Homo sapiens: one gene and its partners. The protein of the gene in region 1 interacts with the protein of each later gene in a pairwise test. Each region holds a gene or a part of one and is shown in the gene's direction. Other genes may lie near its edges.

Region 1 (8,404 bases):
ATAGAGCACAAGGAGATCTGTTTTCCTGTTTCTGGTCTTCCCTTCCCCCTCCTCCAGTGGCTGCAGGTCCCTGGGCTGGGACATTGCCCAGGAAACAGCTCCTCCCCACACCCTTGCTTACCTACCTAGTTGAAGGGGTGGCCTGCCCCTCCACACCTGTGGGTATTTCTAGTAGGGTGGGACAAGAGACTGAGAAAAGAAATAAGACACAGAGACAAAGTATAGAGAAACAACAGTGGGCCCAGGGGACCGGCGTTCAGCATACCAAGGATCTGCACCGGCACCGGTCTCTGAGTTCCCTCAGTTTTTATTGATTATTATTTTCATTATTTCAGCAAAAAGGAATGTAGTAGTAGAGCAGGTTGATAATAAGGAGAAGGTCAGCAAAAAACATGTGAGCAAAAGAATCTATGTCATAATTAGGTTCAAGGGAAGGTACTATGCCTAGATGTGCATGTAAGCCAGATTTATGTTTCTCTCCACCCAAACATCTCAGCGGAGTAAAGAATAACAAGGCAGCATTACTGCAAACATATCTCACCTCCCACCATAGGGCGGTTTTTCTCCTATCTCAGAATTGAACAAATGTGCAATCGCGTTTTATATGGAGACATTCAGTTCCCAGGGGCAAGCAGGAGACAGTGGCCTTCCTCTATCTCAACTGCAAGAGGCTTTCCTCTTTTACTAATCCACCTCAGCACAGACCCTTTATGGGTGTCAAGCTGGGGGACGGTCAGGTCTTTCTCATCCCACGAGGCCATATTTCAGACTATGCATGGGAAGAAACCTTGGACGATACCCCGCTTTCAAGGGCAGAAGTCCCTGTGGCTTTCCGCAGTTAATTGTGCCCCTGGTTTATTGAGACTAGAGAATGGCAATGACTTTTACCAAGTATACTGCTTGTAAACATTTTGTTAACAAGGCACGTCCTGCACATCCCTAGATCCCTTAAACCTTGATTTTATACAACACATGTTTTTGTGAGCTCCAGATTGGGTCAAAGTGCTGGGGCAAAGTGGCTGGGGCAAAGCTACAAATTAACAACATCTCAGCAAAGCAATTGTTTAAAGTACAGGTCTTTTTCAAAATGGAGTCTCTTATGTCTTTCCTTTCTACATAGACACAGTAACAGTCTGATCTCTCTTTCTTTTCCCTACATCTAGTCACCTTGAGCTCTTGAAGGGACTGATGATAAGCTCAGGGGCCAGGGCAGGGGCACCAAAGATTTCCCCTAGCTGGAGCCCTTGGACCCTTGGACTCCCGCTCTGACCCTTATCTCTGTCCTGCAGAAAATGGGTGAATTGCCTTTAGACATCAACATCCAGGAACCTCGCTGGGACCAAAGTACTTTCCTGGGCAGAGCCCGGCACTTTTTCACTGTTACTGATCCTCGAAATCTGCTGCTGTCCGGGGCACAGCTGGAAGCTTCTCGGAACATCGTGCAGAACTACAGGTGACCACCCCTCAATCTGACCCTGTGTGCCAGGATCTCATTTTCTGTGATTAATATAATATGTTTTGTACCTGCCTCCTCAAGCTTGACAGTGACCCTGTCCCTCAATCCCCTCACTCTCTAGCCCCGTCTGTTGGCATCACAGAGCTTTAACCCAAAGGATTTTAGGGCATTTGGGTTGAGAAGATGGCATTGATATTTATGGGAGGGGCTGCTCTATGCATCACAAACCTCTACAGGGATCTATCCCATTGCGGGGTCACCCTCTGCAAGGATAGAGGTGCTCAAAGTGGAGTCCCAGGAAGATAGGAGGGAAATCCCCTTATCTTTGGGAGGAAAAACTCTTGCAATGCTTGCAGCCATTTTTGACCCACTGGAAACCACCATCATCCCTGACCCAGCATTTTGGCAGAAACAGAAGGGTACCCCTCTTTGTGTGGCTATAAGGGAAATAGAAATAGGAGCCTCCACTTCTGGGAAACTTTGGCCCTCTCCCAAAGATAAGGAGCTTCCTTATGCTGAGACTGGGGGCTGAAGTTCCTGGTTCTCTGTCCAGAGTTACCCTGAGCTGGGCAGGTGGGGCCTGTGAGGGCAGATCTGCCCCCTGGCATAGCCTGTCTGCTCCTTGCCAACTTCTGCAGGGCCGGCGTGGTGACCCCAGGGATCACCGAGGACCAGCTGTGGAGGGCCAAGTATGTGTATGACTCCGCCTTCCATCCGGACACAGGGGAGAAGGTGGTCCTGATTGGCCGCATGTCAGCCCAGGTGCCCATGAACATGACCATCACTGGCTGCATGCTCACATTCTACAGGCAGGTCTTGTCCCACGTCCCCTTCTTCAGTGCCCTAAGCTAGAGCATAGCTTGACTAGGTGCGCTTCTTGTCTGGGCCAACTGGGTGAGTGAAAGATTGTGTCAGAATCGCTTCCATTCCTCAGAATTCAGCCTCAGGAGGTCTCTCACCCCAGAGACAGTAGGTGTGTTTGTATAAATGGGGGTGGGGGTACATAGGGGTTACCAGAACAGGTTCTAGGGCCATTAACTGGGTCCCTTCTTAGGCTTGGGGAATAACCTTTGGTTTCATTACAGGGGTCTAAAGATGAGGGCCACTGTAGACGGGGCAGAAGTGAGTGTCTTTGTTCCCTCAGGAAGACCCCAACCGTGGTGTTCTGGCAGTGGGTGAATCAGTCCTTCAATGCCATTGTTAACTACTCCAACCGCAGTGGTGACACTCCCATCACTGTGAGGTGAGAGCCAGCCCCCAGCAGCAGCTGCACTGTCCCATCTGACCCTCTCCTCCCAGCCTGCAGTGCCCTCTCCTTTCTCTCCGGTTCCCTGTGGACCATGCAGCCAGTGCTCAGCGCCCTCTCCTCAGCCTGCCCCACCCCGAATTACCCTGCCTAACTGAAGGCATGAGGTCCTCTTATGTATGCTGTGGGGGACCCACCCCTCTTCACAGGGTGCTACTGGGGCTTCTAGACAAGTTTACGCCGGAGATGGAGGGAAGGCTTCTTCTGCAAGGAGCTTCCCCTTTTATGCCTCATGTATTGAGGACTTGGCATATCCCTAAAGGAAAGGGCCACCTGCTGGACTTGTCACCTCTCCCCGTGACCTGGCTTTTCCACCCACAGGCAGCTGGGGACAGCCTATGTGAGTGCCACCACTGGAGCTGTGGCCACGGCCCTGGGACTCAAATCCCTCACCAAGGTAAAGGCCCCTCACTCCCCTGACCACCCCATTCATCCTCTATCTGCCTCCTTCTTCCTCATCACACCTCCAGTTCTGACCTATATGCCCCCTATATCTCCCCAGAGTCCCTCACCACCCCATGGCCCTTAGGGCCACTGAACAACACCCTTCCTCCCCAGCACCTGCCCCCCTTGGTCGGCAGATTTGTGCCCTTTGCAGCAGTGGCAGCTGCCAACTGCATCAACATCCCCCTGATGAGGCAGAGGTGAGTGACCCCGGCTCCTGGCATGTGCATGCCCAGAATGTAGCACACTGTCCATCCACGCAGACCACCTCAGAATGGGGACATCCCTCTCCCTCCCCAGACATGAGCTGCTGGGCCCTGGCTCAGTCTGACCCTGGGATCCTCAGGTGGGAGAACCAGCCTTTGAGCCTGGGGTGTGTGAGGGGACCCTGAGGAGCCGCTGCTCATTCGGGCATTGCAGGTGGGATCCGGGGCCTGTGATCTGACCCCAACCCCCCTCCCTTGCAGAGAGCTGCAGGTGGGCATCCCGGTGGCTGATGAGGCAGGTCAGAGGCTTGGCTACTCGGTGACTGCAGCCAAGCAGGGAATCTTCCAGGTGGTGATTTCAAGAATCTGCATGGCGATTCCTGCCATGGGTAAGGCGGGAGTGGCTGGGTGGGGCATAGGAGACTCTGAGAGAAGCAGGTGCAGTTCTCAGGGACTTTGGAGGACTCTGGGGAGAGAGGGAGGAGCTTTGAGGGGGGTCACCCTTCACAGTTCCTGACTTTAACTCCACTACTAATGTTCTCCTTCTTGGCCCTGCTCTCCCCACAGCCATCCCACCACTGATCATGGACACTCTGGAGAAGAAAGACTTCCTGAAGGTAGGCGACTGTACCTCTCTTGTCCTGGAATGGGCGATGGCTGGGAGAAGTGACCAGGCCCCAACTCTCTCTCCAGCCTCGCCTGATTCTCTAAGACTTGCCAGCCCTTCTCCTGACCCCTGCACCGCCTCCTCCACCTTCGTTCATTCAGCAAGAATGAACTGGGCTGGGGTGAAGGAACTCTGCAGGGGCAGGAGGAGAGGACAAAGGAAGGAAACCAACTTCATCAGTGTTACTCCAGTGGCTTCTGACACACAGAAGGGGACTGTCATAGTCATGCTTGATCTCATGCTCATTCTTTTACCCCCTAGTGCCTCCATACTGAGAGGTACACACGGGTGAACACGCACACACAGACATGAACAGGACACGAAAGCAAAGCACAGGAACAAGCTCTGGCTCATTCACAGAATCATTTATTCACAAATGTATTGAGTGCCATGCACCAGGCATGTTTTAGGGCTGAGGAGATGGCACTGAACACAATGGTTATGGCCCCTGTCCTCATGAAGTTTATAGTCTGATGCAGAAACCAATAAACAAGGAGGCACCCAATAAATACATTCTTAGAAAGTGTAATATGTGCTTTGTAGGAAAGCAATGGGGGTAGTGTAATTGAGATTCATGGGGGAGAGCTGTTTAGATAGGATGATCAGAGAAGGGGTCTTTAATGCCGCAAAGGATGAGGAGAGAGCCAAATAACGCAGAGAAGAGTGTTTGGGGTACAGAAAACAGTCAGTGCAAGGGCACTGCAGTAGGAGGGGCTTGCACATTTGAGGAACAGGTTGGTGGTCCCTGTGGCCAGAGCAAATTGAGAAGAGTGCCGAGGAAGAGATGTGCTTGGAAAGGGTCAGATTCATGCCACTGGGATGGGAAGAGGTAAGTGGAGGTTCACAGGAGGTTTCCTGAAGAAATCAGCTCCTGGAGGAAGTGAGGGAAGAAAAAAAAGGGCCAGGGAGTGCCATGGCAACCAATTCTGAGAGGTGAGAGGTCATGGGATGCCGGGGAGGGTGATCAGCAGACAGGCCTGGCTGGAGTGGAAGGGCGTGATCTGGAGGTCCCAGCCCTGTCATTGCCTTGGGAGAAAGAAAACGGCCACAGGTCTAAGGGCTCCAAGGCAAGGCTGATGGGATAGAGCTATGGTGGGTGAAATGGGGTGACAGTGAGGCAGGGGACACAAGCCGTTCCATTGTCTTTCTGTCTCTCCACAGCGCCGCCCCTGGCTGGGGGCACCCCTGCAGGTGGGACTGGTGGGCTTCTGGTAAGTGTGCAAGGAGTTAGCTGGGGTGTGTGGGAGTGCCTTGTCCATGGTGGATGTGGGTGGGTATGGATTGTCTTTAAGATGTTTATAGACATCATCCATTCATACATTCAGTGGGTGTGTGTTTGGAACAACTATAGGGTCTACTTTGTGTGTTACGGGGTGGTCCCTGTCCTTGAAGGTCAAGATCCTAGTGAGGGGGTTCCAGTCTTCATCTATAAGAGGAAACCATGGAAATGTACCTTTTGGTGCCATCCAGGAGATTCATGCCCATTTAATTCCTGATTCTGCCACTTACTGGTTGTGGGGCTCTCTTTCCTCAGAACCTGATGTCCAGGTTGGGTTTACTATTCCTAAAAGGTCCTTTCAGCTTTTATCAATCTCCACCCCTAGGGCCTATCTCCAAGGATGGGGTGGGGTGCAGGGAGGGAACACCCTAAGGCCAAAGCTTTACAAACCTTTCCAACACTTGTCTCCCCCAGCCTGGTATTTGCAACCCCCCTGTGCTGTGCCCTATTCCCCCAGAAGAGGTAAGTGCTGTCCCTGGGCTGGGTGGGGGACTCTGGATTGGACTCTGCATCTCTGGACCAGCTGACCTAGGGTCTTCCAGGGTGTTCAGGAGGAGGCCTGGCAGGCACTCCACTGATTCTGGGAGTGGGGGAATGACAGTGAGCCAGTCCTTCTGGCAGTAGAAGGAGAGGATTTTTCAGCCTGGGAGGAGGTGGGATGGCAATCCCTGGGCCTGAGTGGGGTTGGATTCAGGGGACGTTAACTGGCCTGTGCTGTTCTATTGCAGCTCCATACACATAAGCAACCTGGAACCAGAGCTGAGAGCTCAGATCCATGAGCAAAACCCCAGCGTTGAAGTGGTCTACTACAACAAGGGGCTTTGAGGAGGGTCAGCCTCTGTCCCCTCCCTCACTTCCTTGGGCTGCTGCTTTAGTGGAGTCATGTCACCCCTACCACTTGGCTATCTGCCTAGCACTGGGCAGGGGCCTTGGTGGGCAGATGGCAATTGAGGGTAGCAACCTATTAGGGTGGGGGAGGGACCTCCATAAGGCTTTTCCTCCCTTCTCTGGTTTCAAAGATCAGAGCACATAACCCCTCCTGTGCTTGAGTGTCCATGCATATACATACATGATACACATGTGTATGTGTACATTGGGTCCTGAAAGCTAGAAGCAGGCATGCTAGCCTAGTATGTTCTGACATCTGGCTTCCCTTCTCAGCCTCATGTCCACCTGCCTGCCAGCCAGGCTACAGGTGTGACTTCCTTCTCTAAACTGTTACACCAGCCAAGTTATTTTTGATGGCACCTCATCCCTTCTAGAAATAGGAGGAGCCCCAGGATCTCAGGACAGAGACTTATAGACACTAGTAGGACAAAGCGGGCTGAATCCTTCAGGTTTCTGATACCTAGCTCCCCAAGCTGACTGGGCTGGCAGAGGAGAACATGTTGAGACAAGGGAGGCAGGGGACTTATGCATCCCTCAGTGCCATCCCTTGTATCCTGGAATAGCTCCATTTCCCCTCCTCCTCTCTACCAGACAAAGGAGTGCCTGTGTCCTGTACTGCCCTCGCTGTCTCCCCCACCACCCTACTTGACAGCGTGGGCATCTTCAGGCACAGCCTTGGGAGTTCCTGGTGTGCTCTGACATCATGACCTCAAATCTAAATCCTCCAATCCCAACTCCCTTTCCCAAACAAAAAGCCACAGAGGCAGAGCAAGCATTCCCCTTTAAGAGCTTCCACTGCACCCCCTCCCAAGGGACACAGCGGTAGGAATGGTGCTTAAACTCCACAGGTATCAGAGAGGGTGTAACTAGGACATCCTCAAGGGCAGCTAGGCCCCGAATGTACAATGTTAAGACAGGGAATTTTGTGTTCCATTGACTTTTTTTTTTTTTTTTAATGGAGTTTCACTATTTTGCCCAGGCTGGAGTGCGATGGTGCGATCTTGGCTCACTGCAACCTCTGCCTCCTGGGTTCAAGTGATTCTCTTGCCTCAGTCTCCCGAGTAGTGGAAATTACAGGTGTGTGCTACCACATCTTGCTAGTTTTGTATTTTTAGCAGAGATGGGGGTTTCACCATGTTGGCCAGGCTAGTCTCGAACTCCTGACCTCAGGTGATCCACCTGCCTTGGCCTCCCAAAGCACTGGGATTACAAGCATGAGCCACTGTGCCCAGCCTGTTCCACTGACATTTCTTAGACATTCAGCAAAACCCCCACCTTAACCTCTTTTCTTTCTTGAGGGTTGGTCCTGTCCCCACCTCCACCCTCCCACCCCCTGGAAGAGGAAGGGCCCGGGCATCAGTGGCTAGTCCAAATAAAATATGGGCTTGGGGATGGAATGGGTGGTGGTAAGTTCACAGAGTGTAGTTAGATCCCAACTCCCATGACCTCTGGCTTCAGTGGTGGGTGGGGCAGGGCAGATGAAAGGGCTTCAGTGGGAACCTCTGAGAGCATTTTCCTGTTCCCCCTATCAACCGCCCCCAGTGATAACATCTGTGAAGCCAGCCATTACTCAATAAACTGCAAACTTGTCTACTTCTTGGTCTTCACTTGATTCCACGTCCTGAGGGCCCAGAAAGAGTCCCCTGCTTGCAGCCTTCCGTCTCTCCCTGGACTCTCCCCAAGTCCAGGTCTTGTCTCATTCCTCCCCCTGTGTAGGGAGCCTCATGCCCCAGCAGAGGGAGCTCTGAGATTAGAAAATCAGTCCTCCCTCTGGCACCCCCAAGTATGTACTAAGACAGAGGGCGAATGTAGATGCTTTCACCTTTTTTTTTTTCCTTTTCTTTTCTTTCTTTCTGTTTTTTTTTTTTTTTTTTTTTTTTGCGACAGGGTTTCACTCTATCACCCAGGCTGGAGTGCAGTGGCACCATCATGGATCACAGCTCACTGCAGCCTCAACCTCACCAGTTCAATTGATCCGCCTGCCTCAGCCTACCAAGTAGCTGAGACTACAGGCACGTGCCACCACACCCAGCTAATCTTCTGTATTTTTTTATAGAGATGGTTTTTGCCAAGTTGCCCAGGCTGGTCTCCAATTCCTGGGCTCAAGCCATCCACCTGCCTTGGCCTCCCAAAGTGCTGGGATTACAGGCGTGAGCCA
Region 2 (7,701 bases), on another chromosome or scaffold:
AGATTAGCACATTTGGCTTAGAGACCAGCTACGAAGTGGAAAACCACTAAAAGCTTCATGATAACAGAGTCTGAAAACAAAGAACAAATGAGAAACAGTCAGATGCAGCTAGAGTCCAACAGTGAAATCATTTACTTAATGGGATAAATGTGTGTCTAAAAATAATGTGCACTAACATGGTCCCATTCCTTACAGTCTTTGAAGTGATTATGGCTCACCAATTGACATTTTAGCTGAAGTAAAACTCAGTTTCTTACACTGCAGGCTTCAGCATGAACACTTTCATTTTTGAAATGTTTCAAAACCAAATCAATGTCATTACCATCTCTTTATGTGTCATTACTTTCTTCCCAGCTCTAAAGATGGTGGTCATTCGGCTGTTGTTGCCGCTTAGATTCAAATAAAGTGCTGTTAAATCTGTTCCTATATTCTAAATTCAGCAGTACAAAATACATACTACCCCCGTGGCTGCTTAATTATTTCTGCCACCATGTGTTTCCCCTGTCTTTTAAAAAGAGAGTTCTAATTCTTTATATGCAGTAACAAGTTTAGTTTGTGTGAAGTGATTAAACTGGTTTTTACTAAGCAATTTAGCAATACCTAAAAATGAGAGGTCTGTGCTACCACAGCAAAAAGATATAATAGAACCAAGTCACATACATGGAGAAATGTAAAATCATGACTATGCTGAAATTTGTTTCTTTATTGCTTTCTTCCTCTTTTCTTCAACTCTCCTGCCCTGCCTTAGAGGCCTTCTGCACTCCAGTGTTTACAAGTGGCCCAGAGAAAAATGGGTTCAACCTTGGCTTCATCAAGAATATCCAGCAGGTGTTTGGAGATAAGAAGAAGTTCTGGTTAATACCTATTGGTTCCAGGTGAGTAAATATTACCACTGGAAGAAGTTAGTACTGGACCCTGCCTTGAACCAGCAAATTCAATTTTGATTGTAGTATGCAGCAGGTATCAGTCCAGTGTGAAACTCTATTCCCCAAGTTCTTCATTTCTAGGTTAATAAAGGCAAATAAAGAGGTGAGGGTCTGATAAAATAGATATTCTCATGCTTTCTTTGTGGCAGTGTGCAGTGGCACTACCAATCTTTTATAACTGAATTTGGTAATATCTATCAAAAAATTTAAGAATCTACTTGCCCAACATCCCAGTAATTCCATTTCTGGGAATTGAATCTACCCTAAAGACAGAGACAAACTATGCACAAAAATGTTCATCACAGCATTATTTATAGCCAATAATTAGGAAACAACCTAAACAGCCAACAATATGGGAATATATATATATAATATATATTATATATATATTATATATATATTATATATATATAATATATATATATACACACATACTGGATGGAATATTATACAATCAAAAGTAATGGTTATAAAGACTATGTCACAAAAAGGGAAAGTGCTTACTATATTTTAAGTGAAAAAAGAAAAATCCAATACACTGTGATTAAAAACATAAGTATATATAGAAGAAAAACAGCAGAAGAGAAATATACCAAAAAATGGTAAAAATGGTACTATATTTTAAGTGAAAAACGAAAAATTCAATACACTGTGATTAAAAACATAAATATATATAGAAGAGAAGCAGCAGAAGAGAAATACACCAAAAAATGTTAAAAATGGTAAGGGCAATAGTCTTAGAAATTATTTATATTTTCTCCATTTTATATATTTTGTGGTTAATACTAATATTATTTTATGAATAAAAATATGAAAAGCAAGAACAAAGATTAATTTGAGGTTGTAGGTAATTCTTTTTTTATTATACTTTAAGTTCTGGGGTACATGTGCAGAACATGCAGGTTTGTTACATAGGTATGCACGTGCCATGATGGTTTGCTGCATATCAACCCATCATCTACATTAGGTATTTCTCCTAATGCTATCCCTCCCCTAGCTCCCCACCCCAGGACAGTCCCTGGTGTGTGATGTTCCCCTCCCTATGTCCATGTGTTCTCATTGATCAACTCCCACTTATGAGTGAGAACATGCGGTGTTTGGTTTTCTGTTCTTGTATTAGTTTGCTGAGAATGATGGTTTCTAGCTTCATCCATGTCCCTGTAAAGGACATGAACTCATTTTTTTGATGGTTGCATAGTATTCCATGGTGTATATGTGCCACATTTTCTTTATCCAGTCTATCATTGATGGGCATTTGGGTTGGTTCCAAGTCTTTGCTATTGTGAACAGTGCTGTAATAAACATACGTGTGCATGTGTCTTTATAGTAGAATGATTTATAATCCGATGGGTATATACCCAGTAATGGGATGGCTGGGTCAAATGGTATTTCTAGTTCTAGATCCTCGAGGAATTGCCACACAGTCTTCCACAGTGGTTGAACTAATTTACACTCCCACCAACAGTATAAAAGCGTTCCCATTTCTCCACATCCTCACCAGCATCTGTTGTTTCCTGACTTTTTAATGATTGCCATTCTAACTGGCATGAGATGGTGTCTCATTGTGGTTTTGATTTGCATTTCTCTAATGACCGGTGATAATGGGCTTTTTTTAATATGTTTGTTGGCCACATAAATGTCTTATTTTGGGAAGTGTCTGTTCATATCCTTTGCCCACTTTTTGATGGGGTTGTTTGGTTTTTTCTTTTTTTTATTATACTTTAAGCTTTAAGGTACATGGGCACAACGTGCAGGTTTGTTACATATGTATACATGTGCCATGTTGGTGTGCTGCACCCATTAACTCATCATTTAGCATTAGGTATATCTCCTAATGCTATCCCTCCCCCCTCCCCCCACCCCACAACAGACCCCAGTGTGTGATGTTCCCCTTCCTGTGTCCATGTGTTCTCATTGTTCAATTCCCGCCTATAAGTGAGAACATGCGGTATTTGGTTTTTTGTCCTTGTGATAGTTTGCCGAGAATGATGGTTTCCAGCTTCATCCATGTCCCTACAAAGGACATGAACTCATCATTTTTTATGACTGCATAGTATTCCATGGTGTATATGTGTCACATTTTCTTAATCCAGTCTATCATTGTTGTACATTTGGCTTGGTTCCAAGTCTTTGCTATTGTGAATAGTGCCGCAGTAAACATACGTGTGCATGTGTCTTTATAGCAGCATGTTTTATAATCCCTTGGGTACATACCCAGTAATGGGATGGCTGGGTCAAATGGTATTTCTAGTTCTAGATCCCTGAGGAATTGCCACACTGACTTCCACAATGGTTGAACTAGTTTACAGTCCCACCAACAGTATAAAAGTGTTCCTATTTCTCCACATCCTCTCCAGCATCTGTTGTTTCCTGACTTTTTCATGATCGCCATTCTAACTGGTGTGAGATGGTACTCATTGTGGTTTTGATTTGCATTTCTCTGATGGCCAGTGATGATGACCATTTTTTCATGTGTCTTTTGGCTGTATAAATGTCTTCTTTTGAGAAGTGTCTGTTCATATCCTTCGCCCACTTTTTGATGGGGTTGTTTGTTTTTTTCTTGTAAATTTGTTTGAGTTCATTGTAGATTCTGGATATTAGCCCTTTGTCAGATGAGTAGATTGCAAAAATTCTCTCCCATTCTGTAGATTGTCTGTTCACTCTGATGGTAGTTTCTTTTGATGGGGTTGTTTGTTTTTCTCTTGTAAATATGTTTAAGTTATTTGTAGATTCTGGATATTAGCCCTTTGTCAGATGGATAGATTGCAAAAATTTTCTCCCATTCTATAGGTTGCCTCTTCACTCTAATGAGAGTTTCTTTTGCTGTGTAGAAACTCTTTAGTATAATCAAATCCCATTTGCCAATTTTGGCTTTTGTTGCCATTGCTTTTGATGTTTTGTTCATGAAGTCTTTGCCCATGTCTATGTCCTGAATGGTATTGCCTAGGTTTTCTTCTAAGGTTTTTATGGTTTTATGTCTTACATTTAAATCTTTAATCCATCTTGAGTTAATTTTTGTATAACGTGTAAGGAAGGTATCCAGTTTCAGCTTTCTGCATATGGCTAGCCAGTTTTCCCAACACCATTTGTTAAATAGGGAATCCTTTCCCCATTGCTTGTTTTTGTCAAAGGTCAGATGGTTGTAGATTTGTGACGTTATTTCTGAGGCCTCTGTTCTGTTCCATTGGCCTATATATCTGTCTTCATATCAGTACCATGCTATTTTTGTTACTGTAGCCTTGTAGTATAGTTTAATTTGCGGTTGTAGGTCATTCTTAGAACTGCAACAATTATGCAGGGAAAGTAGTGGATGAGAAATAAACAGTCAAGCTTGTGTTCTCTGAATGACTTTGTGAACCAGATTGAACCACCATCAACTAAACTAGTTCTAGAGCAGAGCTTGCTTATAGCCTTCTTGCAGCCACTTTTCAGTCCCCTCCTTAGACAGGAATACACTCATGTTCACTTAGTTGAGGTAACTTTGTTGGGGGTAGGGTGGTAATTATGGAAAAATTTCTCCTTGATTGATTGCCTTGATACTTCCTGTGTAGCAGTTAGTATTTTAAAGACTCATGTATTTCAGAGATGTGGTGTATCCAACTAACCTGTCTATAAATCACAAGGCAAAACTATGTCAGTGGGTAATATTGATTAATAACTGTTACCAGATATTACCTATACCCTATTCACATACTCACATACACAAATATCCACACATCATCACCACATCAAAGGGAGATGTAAAATCAGTCTTCTCTGGAATAAAGAACAAAACCAAAAATCAAAGCCCATTCATTTATAATCAGTACACTTACATTCTCTTTAGAGTGCTATCAATAAAATCTGTCAAATTTCAATTTACCACATACATGAACAGGAGAAAAGGCATAGGTAACATCAAAAGTCATTCAGACTCAAATGTGGAATGCATTCAGATACCTAAACTGAAATGTTCAAACTGTAGCCTCTTCTAGCCAGGGCCAGCTCAGTTCCCTCCAATGCATCCCATCTGTTAGTGGCCAGAAATTACCCAAGGAGTTGACCCTAGCTTACCACAGGTAGCCACAAAGCGAGACCCCACATGTGGATAATTGCCCTGAAAATCTGCAGTCTAGAGATGGCTCACTCTGGCTCTTTCCCCTAGTTCCTAATAACCTTTCTGCCATGCACACCAAATAAATAACAGTGCATTTGCGCATTGTCTTTCACCAATTCACACCAGCTTATCTCCACTGTATTTAGTGTTTCAGAGACTGGTCATCTTTCTTGAAAACTTAGAATCAAAGCAGTGAGATAATTGGATATAAATTGGTATCATCATCATTAAGTGATATGTATGAAGCTTGCTGTGTGTGCATATTGCCATACTGGGCATTTTGGGAAGCAAACTATAGAGTTCTTACAAACAAGAAGTTAACACTGATGCAGACACACAAATAAGATATGGAAATCGAGAGCAATATAGCAACTAAATAATGCTATTGTAAGAGCCCATTCCACCATGGCTTTAGACAATGAGACTAAATATGGCTAAGAACCCCCCTCTTGTTTTTAAGAGGATTATAACCTTCACAAAAGTCTATGTCAGCTGCAATAGGTCACTGCCTTTCTTTTCCCATCAGCCCTGGTGATGGACACTCCTTCCCTATGAGGTCTATGAATGAGTCACAGAACCCACTGCTAGCAAATGAAGAAACCTGGGAAGACAACGAGGATGACAACCAAGGTAAGTGGGGTCAAAGACTATGAAGTCCACATTAATACAACCAATGTAATGTGGTGAGTAAATAGTGTCCAGAAAGATTTTATAAGCATGTCAACCTCATAAGTGTCCTCTGGATGGTGGAGAGCAAGTATGGCCATATTTGTTTAGTAACCATGGGTAGTTTAGATAAGATTAGATTGCAGCTTGGGAGGCTCCTTACCAGCTTTGTGATTCTGTGATTTATATTACCAGTCAGATATACATCTGGATATATATGGATTTCTAAACAATCCTGCTGGGTAGTCACTTGTAGTACTTTGCTTGAATGTGGAGTTCAATTTAATCAATGGGCAACATTGCACCTTTCTCCATCCTCTTTCATTCACATTGGTTAAATTTTCTTTAAAATCCTATACTCACTCTCTTTTTAGAATGGTTTCAATACACTAAAAACTAAAAGATAGTAATGGGGCAAGCCTACACATGCATGTAGTCTACTTTTCTAAAAGGAAGAGGGGCAAAGGAAAATAAGCTTCAACTTTCTCCTACCAGGTCACTGGGTCATCCTAAGGCATTTTGTAAAGAGCTAAAAGTTGAGTTCTCATATAATGTATCCCCATTGCCAGCCCTATTCCTTGTCTCCACCTGTTGCTGTGCCTACTTTTGTGTCTCCAACATTTACTTATGTTGCTAATACCAACCATTAGAAAGTAGTTTTGGCTACTGTTCCCAATAATGCAGTAGCTGGCAGCAATTTTGAGTAGGAACTTGTAGTAGCTATCACAAACTGTACCTGGGGTGAAGGAGGCTAAATGAAGACATGGAAAAGTATTGAAGTGGGAGCAGCGGTAGAGAACAAGCCTTTCTAATTTTTTACCCAGTTGGATTATCCAGGCCCTGATTACCAGGAAATCTAGTTTTAGAGAAAAGCATGTTACTAGGCCCAAGGAATACAAAACAGCCACAAATCCATAGATAAAAAAGAAAACAGTTATTGTCCATCCCAAAGAACTTACAAGGGCAACTCCCTTACTTCCTCCTGCTGACTATTGGAAAATTGACTATATTTTGACCTGTCTTCCTTCAGTCTTCAGTCTTTCTGAACTGACTTTTACTTACAGCAGTCACAAGTTATAACAACTCTTATTTTGGTATTAAACCCAAACTCTAATAGAAGCCAAATAATTATCAGGTCTTTACCTGGTTTGAAATAATTCACAATGAAAAAAGCTATTCATAGCTGAGCTTTGTGTTGGCAAGTGGAATACTTTAAATGTAGATATAGCATCACATCATAAAGAGGTTATATTTTGAAGCAGTCTCCAATTCCAGACCTTTTCAAAAATATTCAATCATTAAAAATTAGTATGTTATTTTATAGTTTACAAAGTGCTTTCCTATATTTTTTCTTCATATCCTTTGACCCTCACAACTTTCAGGTTAGATAGGCAGTGTTATTAATAGCATCCCTATTTTATAATTAAGAAACTAAAATTGAGAGATGTTAATCTCACATGTCAAGGTATCTTGATTCCAAATCCTAGTTTTTTTCCACTACAATGCTAGGTCTCTCCTTTGGACAAGTACATATGAGACACAGTGCTGTGATTGCATGCCATTTAGTGATCTGAAGCATTCAACTGCTTCTTACATAATCATAAAATCATAAACTGTAAGGTGCCTTTAGCTTTAGCAAGACCACTATGCCATCTTAGATAGCTGAGGGGTTTTTTTTAAGTTCATTGAAGGAGACTCCACAATCCTCCTTTGTAACCCATTCTAGTATCTAATGCAAGTTCTCATGCTGTGTTATTTGTTAGGTTGATTCTATGTTAACTTCAGTTGCTCCCATTTTCTGTGCATAACTGTCATAGACAAACAGTTCTTACATTTTTAACAACTTAGATTCCTAGGAAAGGTGCTGTAAGTTGAAATTACATGTGTGTATTTAAGTTAATTTCTTTTAGGAATCAAGTGGAATTTTTATTCCTAGCCCAAAATATAACATTTCATTTAGTATAAATGTGCTTGTATGGCCGGGCGCTGTAGCTCACGCTTGTAATCCCAGCA
Region 3 (7,701 bases), on another chromosome or scaffold:
CGTGAACCATAATTTATTACCCTGATCTGGATTATTGGCTATTGAAGTAATTTCTAGCTTCTCACCACTATAAAGCTGTGATGATATCTCTGTACATAATTCTTAGAAGTTGGAATTATAGAGCCAAAGGGTATAAACATTTTTGAAACTTTTGTTCTATAAATGCCAAAACTTGCCATCTAAAAAAATGCCATGAAATTGCCATCCCAATACCTTTCCCCACACTGAGTATTATCACCTGTTTTTAATCATTGACAGTTTATCAGACAAAAAGAATGTATTAATCCCGACATTTTAATCTCTGCCCATGATTCACATCTGGAGCCTGTCTTTCTCTCGTGCAGCATAAGGCAAAGCTGGAATGGAGAACGAATGAGGGCAGGCAGTGAGGGGGTTAAAGCGGCTCAAATCACTAGTCTGCTAACCACACTCTCAGCGTCCCACGTACAAGGCCTGCCTGTCAGGCACTTAGCATGTGCTCAGAACGTGGTATTTTCATCACTCCTGCTTCCAGCACAACCCCCTGGCTGTGTACTTCTCCACCCTCCGAGTCTGACCTTGTCCCAGATCCATTTGGTAGAACCGGTGCATTCCTAAGGCTGCCAGAGCCCCCATCCTTCCTTTTGCCAGCCATGAGTGATACTGTAAGAAATAAATATCCTTGTGTACGGTCCCATCTGGTCCTACCGCAGCTGTCTGCAGTGGGATCCCTGTTCAGCGCCCTGCACGCCACACACATGCCCATCCTACCTGTTCATATTCCATACATATGCATGCATATGTACATAGGTGCTCGCACGCATGCACATGTGCTCATGTGTGCATAAACATATATGCACACGTGTTCATGCCCCAGTGTGCCTTGGTGCTTCTTCTTAACTCCTTCAAGAGCAGAGCCAGTGCGTTCACGCACGTGCACATACACAGTGCTGTGCATTCAGGGTTCAGGCCCAATTAGGCCAGTGGGAATCCTCTCCCACATAGACTTTCTGTATGTCCCACAGCCCTGAGCTAGGACACCCTGCTGTCTAATCCCACAGTTCCTGTACTTCCTTCTTACTTTATTGGTATTCCCTATAGATCATTTTCCTGCTGGCCTAGAAGCTCTGCTAATCCTTAACTTGCTCACTGCTGTTTCTCCAGTGCCTAACTCGCTACTTAGGAGGTAGTGAGATGCACAAGAAATATTTGTTGGGTGAAAAAAAGAAGGAACAGACTTAAAGCTGATAAAGGATGTTGTTCCAAATATTTTTAGAGTCTCTTTTAACAAAGTGGCCAATTTCAGATAAACTCATGGTTTCACAAGAAAATATCTTCGCAGCATCAGATTTCAAGCAGCCTGGTCAGTCATCCTTTCGGAGAGACTGGAAAAAATGCAGAATTGAAAACAGGTCCTTGCCCAGCTAAACATCTTGTAAATTTTACTGTTTTGCAAAAGTTCCTGTCACAGGAATAATGTATGGGGGAGAGGTTTAGCAAGGGGCATTGCTTGCTCCTCCTCCTCAGTCCTTGAGAATGTTCTAAACTAAAGCCTTGAGTGACTGCTTCTCTGGCTCGCTCTCAACCAACAAATGCTGTGGAATCCCAGGACCGCTGGCTGCTCCCTTTAGCGCAGGGTCTCTGGGCTGCTTTGTGGAAAGAAGGTTTATTTTGTCCAGCTGGGCACAGGAGCGGAGAGGAAGAATGTGCAGGCCTGTGTCCCTTTTAACAAAGGGAGAACTCGATGTGGTTTCAGAGAAGCTTGTCTTGCTGGGTGACTTCATGTGGCCTGCATTCATTTCATCCAACATTGACTCTGCAAACTTTTTTTTTTCGAGACAGAGTCTTGCTCTGTCACCCAGGCTGGAGTGCAGTGGCACAATCTCGGCTCACTGCAACCTCCATCTCCCAGGTTCAAGCAATTCTCCTGCCTCAGCCTCCCAAATAGTTGGGATTACTGGCACGTGCCACAGCACCCAGCCTTTTTTTTTTTTTTTTTTGTATTTTTAGTAGAGACGGGGTTTTACCATGTTGGCCAGGATGGTCTTGATCTCTTGACCTCGTGATCCATCCACCTCGGCCTCCCCAAGTGCTGGGATTACAGGCATGAACTCTGCAAACATTTTTTGAGTCCCTGCTGTGTGCCAGGCTTAGAGATGATGACAATGTGGTCATGGGAAGAGAGAGACTCACCACGGTGGTTGCTGGAGGATTTGGGGAGCACATGAAAGGGGCATCTGAGCTATGGGTGACCAGAGAAATGTTCTGGAGGGTGGTTGGGGGTGGGTAGTGCAAAGAAAGGCAGGCTGAGACATGCAGTAGGAGAGGCAGGAGCCAGGCTAAGGCCACCATGAGCAGCATCATTCTAAGAAGCTGGATTTTCTCCTGCAGGAAGTAGGGAGCCATTGAGGGTGGGGAACAGATGACAGTAGGCTGTTTGGCCTGGTCATACCATTGGCTGAGGCCCTGTCCCCCAGGTGAGTCTGTTACAACCATCGATTGTGGACCATTCATCCCATCGCTCACTCTCCCAGCAGCCTCCAGCAAGAGCTACGATTTTACTGCACTTCATTAAATTCCACACAATGTTTTAATGACCTGAGCTCCGACCTTTCTGGCCTCCAGCAGGGAAAGGTCTGGCTTTTCCTTTTCAGGGAGTAGCGGGCTGGGCAGACCGGCCTCCCTTCTCGCAGCCTCGCACAAGGAGCCTGAGCACGTAAGACATCTGGAATGCATCAAAGGCGAGGCCCAGCCAGAGCCGGCGTGCTCGGTGCTGCTGCCTAACTCCTTCAAGAGCAGAGCCGCCACATTCACAAAGCGTCTGGAATCGGAACTGATCGTCCTCTCTGCTCTTTCTGCTTTCCTTCCAGGCCCTTCCACCGCAGCCATCCGCACGGGAGGCCTCGCGATTGCTCGGAACCATCCCGCAGGAGTTCAGCTGATATTTTCTAGTGTGGGGCGAGAGATTTTGTGGAGCGCATTTAAGGGGTTTTTGTTGTGACTGCTGCCTTGTATACATTTATTTTCTTTCTTGGAACTGGGCCTCGCCCTCCTCCCACTGACATGATGGCCCAGTCCAAGGCCAATGGCTCGCACTATGCGCTGACCGCCATCGGCCTGGGGATGCTGGTCCTTGGGGTGATCATGGCCATGTGGAACCTGGTACCCGGCTTCAGCGCGGCCGAGAAGCCAACAGCTCAGGGCAGCAACAAGACCGAGGTGGGTGGCGGCATCCTCAAGAGCAAGACCTTCTCTGTGGCCTACGTGCTGGTCGGGGCCGGGGTGATGCTGCTGCTGCTTTCTATCTGCCTGAGTATCAGGGATAAGAGGAAGCAGCGGCAGGGCGAGGACCTGGCCCATGTCCAGCACCCGACAGGCGCTGGGCCTCACGCCCAGGAGGAAGACAGGTGAGGCCTGACTGTCCCCTTCCCTCCCCGGATCGGGGATGGGCACGCACGCATGCACACACATGTTCACACCTTTCCGTGGTGAAAAGACTGTCATCTACAGGCTTTATTGTCCCATGTTCGCCCATGACGCCTCTGTCAAAACGGTTTATCATTTTACAAATAACTTTAGACTTTTCTACCAGAGCTTCCCAAATAGCATGGTACAAATGGATTACAGGTAAACCAAGATTTTTTAAAAATTTTATTACAATAGATTTTTACACCATGGAATACTATTCAGCCATAAAAAGGAACAAAATACTGTCTTTTGGGCCAGGTGCAGTGGCTCACTCCTGTAATTCCAGAACTTTGGGAGGCCGAGGCAGGTGGATCACTTGAGGTCAGGAGTTTGAGACCAGCCTGGCCAACATGGTGAAACCCTGTCTCTACTAAGAATACAAAAATTAGCTGGGCATGGTGGCACATGCCTGTAGTCCCAGCTACTGGGGAGGCTGAGGCATGAGAATCGCTTGAACCCAGGGGAGTGGAGATTGCAGTGAGTGAGCTGAGATACCGCCACTGCACTCCAGCCTGGGTGACAGAGTGAGACTCTGTCTCAAAAAAAAAAATACAAAAACAAAAAACTGTCTTTTGCAGCAACTTGGATGGAGCTGGAGGCCATTACTCTTAAGTGAACCAGCATTTTGACCCGCCCAGGGTCACTGAACAGGGCCTGGGGTGGCCAGCATATTTGCTTGTCCCTTCACCCCAGCATGCTGTGTGTATGCTTTAATTTGAAATGGCTGGGAAGCAATTTTCCATTTGAGCAAAAATGCCACCAACAAATTTAAAAGATAAGTGATACATTGGGGAAGATATGATAATAGTTGATATCCCTATTATAAAAAGAGCTCTTAGAAATGAATATGTAAGATGAATATACCAATAGGAAACAGACAAAGATTATGAATATTCCATAGATGTTCAACCAATAGATGTTCAACTTCATTAGTCATGAAATGCAAGCAAAAAGATGTCTTTTCTTTTTTTTGCCTATCATATTGATCAAGATAGACAGCCCCTACTGTTGGAGAGTTGTAGGGAAGATGGATTGCTGATGAAATGTTGACTGATAGAAACTTTCTTAAGAGTTTCACCATAAGGGGCAGTACTGAAGATGTGCGTATTGATCCTATTTATAAGAGTTTATCCCTGGGAGACAGTCCCACAGGTGCAAAGGAGTTTGTACCAGTATATTTATCAGATCATTGTTTAGGATAACAAAAACTTAGAAACAACCTAAAAAACCACCTACTGAGTTAAATGACGTACCTATTCAATGGAGTTCTATGCAGCAACTGTTGATCTATATTTGTTAATGTGGGACCATATCCACAACAATGAGAAAAGGGGGATATAATACAGCATCTTTGGTCAGGTTATGGTCCCATCAAATGTTGTGGCTGTGGGATTGGAGAGGGGTAGGAAAGGTATACACCAGAATGTTACAGTGGTTTGTCTCCAGGTAGAAGGATTCGGGATGTTTTTCTTTTCTTCATTAGATGTTTCTGTGTTGTTTGAATTTTCTACAAGCATTTCTTATCTTTATAGTGGGAAGGGAATTGTTCTTAATGTAATATGGATTAAAGGGAACCCTTGGTACACTAATGGTGGGAATGTAAATTAGTGCAACCACTGTGGAGAAGTTTAGAGTTTCTTCAAAAAACTCAAAATTGAGCTGCCAAATGATTCAGCAATGCCACTTGTGGGTACACACCAGAAGAAAAAAAAATCTCATTATATTGAAGGGATTTCTGCCCTCCAATGTTACCAGTTACCACCCCTTTCCATGGTAATGACCTGGAAGTTACCATCCCTTTCCTAGAATGTTCTAAATAGCTTGCCCTTCAATTTACATTAACCCACTTCTTACTTTTGCACATAATTGAAAGTGGGTGTAAGTGGGTACAAATACAATTTCCAAATTAAACTCATTTTCTGATAGCAAAGAATAATATATGCTGTATTGGTCAGGGTTCTCCAGAGACACAGAACCAGGGGGATATATATTTTTTTAAATGGAGATTTATTATGAGGAATTAGTTCCTGGGATCATGGAAGCCAAAAAGTCCCACAATTTGCCATCTGTAAGCTGCAGACCCAGGAAAGCAAGGGGTATAATTCATTCTGAGTTTGAAGGCCTGATTGAGAACGAGGAGAGGTGAGGGTATAGATCCTAGTCTGAGAGCAGGAGAAGATGAAATGAGATGTCCCAGCTCAAGCAGTGAGGCAGGGAGAAATGAGTCAAATTCCTGCTTGCTCTGACTTTGGGTCTATCTAGGGCCTCCATGGGTTGGATGGTGCCACCACACTGAGGAGGGGAATCTGCCTTACAGAGCCCACCGAGCTGAATGCTAGTATCTTCCAGAAACACCCTCACTCTCACAGTGTTTAATATGGGCAACCATGGCCAGTCAGGTTGACACCTAAAATTAACCATCACACATGCTTATTCTAGAAAACTTGAGAAATATAGAAAAGAACAAATATCAATCACTCATCATTCCCCACCCTAGCTGTGAGCACATTTGAGTTCATTCCTAAAGGAGGGTGGGAGGAAAACCAAGGCAGACTTTGAGGTTTCTGATGTTGGCCATGATCACCCCACAGGTTCAAGTATAGAGTCCTGGAAAGTGGCTATTGGCGTTAATTCTGACAAATGTGTAGAAAATATCCTGACTTTTTGGTTTTCTCTTTCAACAGTCAAATGAGAATAAGGCTGAGAGGACCTGATCTTTTTGAGTCTTGGGATAAACTTGGAAGATAAAATTACAGAATAATTTGAGACACACATAAATGTTATATTTCAGATATTCTTTCTCTACTGAAAGTTGGTAGCAACTTTGTACATTTCTGTGTTGCCTTTGACCAAAGGACCCAGCTGAGCATTGGAATAGCTCACGCAGCATGTCGCTAAGTGGGAAAGGCTTAAAGGCAAAGGAGGTTTAACACCCAGATAACATGGTGGAGTAGTTGAGAGTACAGTGTTCACTTCCTGCCCTCCCATTTCCTGAAGGTCTGACCAAGTCATTTAATCTTGATGTATCTCAGTCCATCTATAAATTGGGTATTATAATAATAGTGAGATAGAAAACAGGCAGGACTTGTTTTCTGATCATAACCCTGCTGACCAAAACAGGATGTGGTCCAGATGAGATAAGGTTTAAAAAAACACTAGCCAAAGCCAGCAAACGGGAACGAGGGTGATCCCTGGCTGCCCTCATTGCTCATCAGCATGGGACACTCTCACCAGTGCCATGACAGTTTACAATTGCCATGACAACGACCTGGCAGTTACCATCCCTTTCCATGGTAACGACCCAGAAGTTACCTTTCCTAGGAAGTCTTAAATAGCTTGCCCCTCAATTTGCATTAACCCACCCCTTAATTTGCATGTGACTAAAAGTGGGTATAAATACAATTTCCAAGAGCCCCTATGTGGCCAACTCAGGGTGTACTGCCTATGAGTTAGCCCTGCTCCACAAGAAGCAGTGCCCTTCAATAAAGAATTGTGGTCTAACACCACTGGCTCACCCTTGAATTCCTTCCTTGATGAAGCCAAGAACCCTCCCAGGCTAAGCCCCAATTTGGGGACTCACCTGTCCTGTCCTGCATGACTAGTACTTAACTCATAGTGTTGTCAGGAATCTGAAATTGGTTCATATTTGCTAAAATACTTAGAAGGGAGCCCAGCTCATAGTAAACACTTGAAGTATTCACTTTTATTGCCTCTAAGACCCATTTGTTATTTACAAGGCTGCTGTGTGTGGACTCTTTGGAGCCCATCCCTTTGGGATTTTGAATGACTTGAGCACAGGCTAACACTCTCCCTGTCTGTGTGTCTTCTTGCAGCCAGGAGGAAGAAGAGGAGGATGAGGAGGCTGCCTCAAGGTACTATGTTCCCAGCTACGAGGAAGTGATGAACACAAACTACTCAGAAGCAAGGGGAGAGGAGCAGAACCCGAGGTTGAGCATCTCTCTCCCGTCCTATGAGTCACTGACGGGGCTCGACGAGACCACCCCCACATCCACCAGGGCTGACGTGGAGGCCAGCCCTGGGAACCCCCCTGACAGGCAGAACTCTAAGTTGGCCAAACGACTGAAACCGCTGAAAGTTCGAAGGATTAAATCTGAAAAGCTTCACCTCAAAGACTTTAGGATCAACCTCCCAGACAAAAACGTCCCTCCTCCCTCGATAGAGCCTTTGACTCCTCCACCGCAGTATGATGAAGTCCAGGAGAAGGCCCCCGACACCCGGCCGCCCGACTGAATG

Evidence for each region. Proteins that work in one complex are often made in the same cells at the same time.
Region 2: the proteins of SFXN3 (region 1) and ZDHHC15 interact in binary tests that used the Homo sapiens proteins (3 or more experiments, as listed by UniProt).
Region 3: the proteins of SFXN3 (region 1) and TMEM51 interact in binary tests that used the Homo sapiens proteins (3 or more experiments, as listed by UniProt).

What each region holds. Positions count from the first base shown.
Region 1 is NC_000010.11:101,033,403-101,041,806, forward strand, and holds the end of SFXN3 (sideroflexin-3), read left to right. Parts: intron 1-1,289; coding exon of another isoform or gene 1,290-1,292; coding exon 1,293-1,453; intron 1,454-2,094; coding exon 2,095-2,265; intron 2,266-2,541; coding exon of another isoform or gene 2,542-2,600; coding exon 2,601-2,699; intron 2,700-3,083; coding exon 3,084-3,159; intron 3,160-3,264; exon of another isoform or gene 3,265-3,320; coding exon 3,321-3,406; intron 3,407-3,673; coding exon 3,674-3,801; intron 3,802-3,979; coding exon 3,980-4,029; coding exon of another isoform or gene 4,030-4,371; exon of another isoform or gene 4,372-4,968; intron 4,969-5,240; coding exon 5,241-5,290; intron 5,291-5,772; coding exon 5,773-5,820; intron 5,821-6,086; coding exon 6,087-6,183; 3' UTR 6,184-7,839; downstream 7,840-8,404. UniProt on the Homo sapiens protein: Mitochondrial serine transporter that mediates transport of serine into mitochondria, an important step of the one-carbon metabolism pathway.
Region 2 is NC_000023.11:75,415,038-75,422,738, reverse strand, and holds part of ZDHHC15 (palmitoyltransferase ZDHHC15), read left to right. Parts: intron 1-748; coding exon 749-875; intron 876-5,548; coding exon 5,549-5,652; intron 5,653-7,701. UniProt on the Homo sapiens protein: Palmitoyltransferase that catalyzes the addition of palmitate onto various protein substrates.
Region 3 is NC_000001.11:15,212,046-15,219,746, forward strand, and holds part of TMEM51 (transmembrane protein 51), read left to right. Parts: intron 1-2,849; 5' UTR 2,850-3,042; coding exon 3,043-3,386; intron 3,387-7,280; coding exon 7,281-7,698; 3' UTR 7,699-7,701.